2 separate regions of the Homo sapiens genome follow, and region 2 is linked to region 1. Evidence: fine-mapped QTL for protein levels in blood plasma. A gene starts in region 1. The other region holds a variant in brackets. All regions are shown on one strand. Distances are from middle to middle. Region 1 holds the start of TLR3 (toll like receptor 3). Region 2 overlaps TLR3 (toll like receptor 3).

Evidence for each region. PIP is the chance, under the fine-mapping model, that this variant and not a neighbour inherited with it causes the effect. Protein levels are from antibody-based Olink assays in UK Biobank. Linkage for the fine-mapping came from a reference panel and not from the study's own genotypes, which makes the PIPs less certain.
Region 2: its variant is fine-mapped to the plasma level of the TLR3 protein (UK Biobank, PIP above 0.99). The variant lies in the coding sequence of TLR3. If it changes the protein, the assay may bind it differently, which can mimic a change of level.

The regions. Positions count from the first base shown.
Region 1 is chr4:186,067,657-186,070,685 of GRCh38, forward strand. TLR3 (toll like receptor 3) reads left to right here and starts at 1,500. Exons shown (of 5, transcript NM_003265.3): 1 at 1,500-1,592.
Region 2 is chr4:186,081,348-186,083,847 of GRCh38, forward strand. It overlaps TLR3 (toll like receptor 3), which reads left to right. Exons shown (of 5, transcript NM_003265.3): 4 at 973-2,500. Among named protein-coding and RNA genes, the nearest start is that of TLR3, 13 kb to the left of the region's middle. The variant C/G (reference allele first, on the strand shown) is at 1,228.

The DNA.
Region 1 (3,029 bases):
CATAAGGGATAGGTATGAAGGATTGTTGAGATGATGTGTTTTATTTCGCTAATAATGCATATGACACCATTCCAATTTTTTTAAATTTAAAACAACAATCATTTATTTGCTTGCTTCTCAAGCCTGGGTAATCGTGTTTGGCAATGAGACCTTGTTGCATGCTTGCTAATATCCCACTGGTCAAAGCTAGTCAAATGGCCAAGCCTAGAGTCAGCGTGGGAGAAGGCCACACAAGGGTTTGAATTCTGAGGACGAGTCTCTTTCATTGAAGGCCAAAGAAACAGTCTACCTCAGAGGGTTGCTGGGGAGCTATAATGCAAAGAATAAACCTCACCCTGCCTTCAAGGCGCTCACAGAGAAGAAATCTTTTGAATATTAGTGAAGTTTTCCTGGACATCCCAATGGATAGATGTGAGGGACAGTCACGTACTCAGGACATCTGTTTGCTTATGGTGTTATGTTACAGATGTCACAAATGAAAATCAGAGACATGTAGCCCTGAGCCCAGTAACTATAAAGCGGTCTAGCTGAAGCTGGAGCCCACAAGAGGGCACTTTGCACCATGATGCACGCTTGTTTCTTGCCATCAGCTCTGCAATGAGTTCAAGCTAATGCCATGTCCCAGCCGTCCAGTTGTTTTATGACTTGTGTGATTGAAGCATATGGTGGCTTGTGGCATGTTCTTAGGCAAACCACTCACCTCCCTAGGTTTCGTTTTCCTAATTTCTCAAACAAGGGAGTTAGATTAGGTGGTCTATAGTTCCTTCCAATTGTGATATTTCACTATATAACAATATAGTTATAATAGATCATAGCACATCTGTAATGAAAAAAAGTGAGTTCATTTCTTAACAAGTACATTTACTTAACTAGTTGGAGTCATTAAAGCAAATTAAGAACGAAATTCTTAGTTAATCTGAACTTTTCTGGGCATACTGATCTGTTCCCTAACGCGTCTGACCGTGGAAAAGTGGATCAGCAGGAGTGGGACTGGCTCTCAGCTTTGCCATGTTTGGCTCTTTCTCTGCTGTGAAACTCAGTTTCTTCCTGGATCAAGAGGTTAATTTCTGCCGGTGTTATTTTACAGTGTTGCAAAGAGATAAAAGCCAGACGAAAGAAGGGAAAGTACTTCAGCTTTGATTAGGGATTTTTTTTTCTGTCCCTGTGACCATACACTACTCAATTCTGACAGCTTCGCATGAGTCTAGCAGAAAATTGAGGGATTCACTGTTATTCCTTAACTTGCAGAGGTCCAGACCCGCCCACATCAAATGGTGAGGTCCCCACTTTCAACTTTAGCTGTTGCTAAATCTGTGACCCTTTCAATGAAATCCAAGGATCTCAGCTTAAAAAAAGTTAAAATAAAATAAAAACTAGGTGTTTTTCAGAGGCGGTTTGAAACGCCTCTCTGAGGTTGTCAGAGATTGTTTTTGTTTTCTCCCTTTGCCCTTCTTGGAATGCACCAAACATAAAAGCATTTTTTTTCAAGCTTTACTTTCACTTTCGAGAGTGCCGTCTATTTGCCACACACTTCCCTGATGAAATGTCTGGATTTGGACTAAAGAAAAAAGGAAAGGCTAGCAGTCATCCAAGTAAGTGAAGGTGTTCATTTCACGTTCTTACTGGGCAGGGTCTCTCTTGCTGAGTAGAGTTTGCTAGCAGAATGCATGTGGTTTTAGCCTTCTTTGGTCTTTCTTTGATCTGGTGCTTGAAATCTAGTCAGAATTATTCAGGAAGGAAAGTGGAAGAAAAGGGATATGATATGGGCATGGGAGAAGGGTATAACTCAGAACACAAGTAATAGCACCAATATCTAGTTAATGTGATAATGTATTTATGCAGTATTTAATTTTTTTCTCTGTAGCATTCTGTACCTGGAAAAAACACATTAGGGAAGCTATGGAAATCATTTTGCAACAGTCTTTTTAGCAAATCACATCTTTGCCTTAAAGAAACAAAACTCCAAGAGGTTAAAAGAGCGTATCCCCTTTTGTTAGTTTTATTGGCTGGAGGGGAGACAGGAGCTGGCATTGTATGACAATGTCTTAGATAGGAGAGAACATTCAGGTATGCCTAGGAGTAAGTAAATGGCTTTCTTTCACCTAATGAAGGATAATGGAAGAAGTGGAGAAGTGGAAAGTTGTTAAGGTGTATGGGAAGATCAGAAACTGGTATCGGCAATTGTGGGGTACTCGGGTAAAAATGGAGTTGGCTTCAGCAAGTTGATTCCCAGGTTTACAGATGATTACGTGCTGGTATGTGTCTTCATATGGGCGTGCCTGTGTATGAACCTACTACAAAGGTTGCAAAGTTTACAAATCAAACTATGGATAGTGGTTAACTCCAGGTAGTCTGCCTCCAGACCCCATGTCCTAACCATCAGGCAATATTGTCTCTCACTTGGACAAAGAATGTGAATTCCATGTGCCCTCACAAAATATTTCCAAAATTCTAAGGCTGAGTGAGTCTCTTTTTAATTTTTTTTCATTTTCTTTATTTCTGCTAGATCTCATTCAACAGCAACGTTTTCTTCACTCTCATTTCATCCTTTAACTGCATTTTTGCTTGTTTTACTGAAGCATGTCCTAGAATAACCTTTTCATACAGATCGTATGGCTATAAACTTACTGAATTTTTGCATATCTCAAAATACTTATACCTTTTTATTTAGTTATTCAGATGGATGTGAAATTTCCCTATCTTATTTTATTTTATTTTATTTCATTTTATTTCATTTATCGATTTAGAGACAAGGTCTCGCTGTGTTGCCCAGGCTGAAGTACAGTGGCATGATCGTGGCTCACTGCAGCCTTGACCTCCCTGGCTCAAGCAATTCTCACACCTCAGTGTCACGAGTAGCTGGGACCACAGGTGTGAACCACTATGGCCAGCTAATTTAAAAAAAAATTTTGGTGGAGATGAGGTTTCCCTGTGTTGCCCAGGCTGGTCCCAAACTCCTAGGCTCAAGGGATCCTCCAGCCTCAGCTTCCTAAAGTGATGGGATTACAGGCATGAGCCACAGGTAATTT
Region 2 (2,500 bases), 13 kb after region 1:
TTCTCTCTGGATTCCTCCTCTCCCACCTGCTGTTCTCTTGTCCCCGAAGTGAGTCCCAGAACAGCCAAGGCTCTGGTAAGGGTGTAGGACGGAGCAGAAGGGAGCTGGAAAAACACGATAGTAAAAGAAAGTCAGGAGAAAATCCGGGTGGAAAGACGAGAGGGAGAGCTAGAGCTCAGAGTTCCAGAAAGGAAAGTGTGCCGTCACCGCCTCATCATAAAAGCCATCCACAACTTCCTTCCATGAGGCTCACTGAGAACAGCGGCACCAAGACACAACCAGGAACTGCCCCAGGAGTGACTTCACGAGCAGTTTATTCATTGCAATTGTTCTCATGGTGATAAAGAAAAAGTACCAGGAGATGGATCCTGGACTGGAAGGTCAGAGAAGCCTCCCTGAAAAGGTGGCATCTAAGCTGAGGCTGTGAATGCTGAGCAGAAGTTAGCCCGTGGCCAGGGGAGGTCAGAGGCTGGAGTAAGAGGTGGGCGCTGCAGGAACCGAGTAAGGAAGGACTCGTGCATTACAGGAAGGGGGAGAAATGCTCTGCCCATGGGATGTGGTGAAGGGTGAGCGGAGATGGAGTAAAGAACTGCATCTGGCCGGGTGCAGCGGCTCAGGCCTATAATCCCAGCACTTTGGGAGGCTGAGGCGGGCGGATCATGAGGTCAGGAGTTCAAGACCAGCCTGGCCTACACGGTGAAACCCCGACTCTACTAAAAATACAAAACTTAGCTGGACGTGGTGGCGCATGCCTGTAATCCCAGCTACTCGGGAGGCTGAGGCAGGAGAATTGCTTGAACTGAGGAGGTGGAGTTTGCAGTGAGCTGAGATTGCACTGCTGTACTCCAGCCTGGGCGACAGAGCGAGACTCCGTCTCAAAAAAAAAAAAAAAAAAAAAAAAAAAGGCTTTCAACAGCATTACAGAGTCTGTGTTCTTTTGATTGTTAACCTCTTTTTTTTTCCTACCTTTAGTTTTCTCCAGGGTGTTTTCACGCAATTGGAAGATTATTTGGCCTCTTTCTGAACAATGTCCAGCTGGGTCCCAGCCTTACAGAGAAGCTATGTTTGGAATTAGCAAACACAAGCATTCGGAATCTGTCTCTGAGTAACAGCCAGCTGTCCACCACCAGCAATACAACTTTCTTGGGACTAAAGTGGACAAATCTCACTATGCTCGATCTTTCCTACAACAACTTAAATGTGGTTGGTAACGATTCCTTTGCTTGG[C/G]TTCCACAACTAGAATATTTCTTCCTAGAGTATAATAATATACAGCATTTGTTTTCTCACTCTTTGCACGGGCTTTTCAATGTGAGGTACCTGAATTTGAAACGGTCTTTTACTAAACAAAGTATTTCCCTTGCCTCACTCCCCAAGATTGATGATTTTTCTTTTCAGTGGCTAAAATGTTTGGAGCACCTTAACATGGAAGATAATGATATTCCAGGCATAAAAAGCAATATGTTCACAGGATTGATAAACCTGAAATACTTAAGTCTATCCAACTCCTTTACAAGTTTGCGAACTTTGACAAATGAAACATTTGTATCACTTGCTCATTCTCCCTTACACATACTCAACCTAACCAAGAATAAAATCTCAAAAATAGAGAGTGATGCTTTCTCTTGGTTGGGCCACCTAGAAGTACTTGACCTGGGCCTTAATGAAATTGGGCAAGAACTCACAGGCCAGGAATGGAGAGGTCTAGAAAATATTTTCGAAATCTATCTTTCCTACAACAAGTACCTGCAGCTGACTAGGAACTCCTTTGCCTTGGTCCCAAGCCTTCAACGACTGATGCTCCGAAGGGTGGCCCTTAAAAATGTGGATAGCTCTCCTTCACCATTCCAGCCTCTTCGTAACTTGACCATTCTGGATCTAAGCAACAACAACATAGCCAACATAAATGATGACATGTTGGAGGGTCTTGAGAAACTAGAAATTCTCGATTTGCAGCATAACAACTTAGCACGGCTCTGGAAACACGCAAACCCTGGTGGTCCCATTTATTTCCTAAAGGGTCTGTCTCACCTCCACATCCTTAACTTGGAGTCCAACGGCTTTGACGAGATCCCAGTTGAGGTCTTCAAGGATTTATTTGAACTAAAGATCATCGATTTAGGATTGAATAATTTAAACACACTTCCAGCATCTGTCTTTAATAATCAGGTGTCTCTAAAGTCATTGAACCTTCAGAAGAATCTCATAACATCCGTTGAGAAGAAGGTTTTCGGGCCAGCTTTCAGGAACCTGACTGAGTTAGATATGCGCTTTAATCCCTTTGATTGCACGTGTGAAAGTATTGCCTGGTTTGTTAATTGGATTAACGAGACCCATACCAACATCCCTGAGCTGTCAAGCCACTACCTTTGCAACACTCCACCTCACTATCATGGGTTCCCAGTGAGACTTTTTGATACATCATCTTGCAAAGACAGTGCCCCCTTTGAACTCTTTTTCATGATCAATACCAGTATCCTGTTGATTTTTATCTTTATTGTAC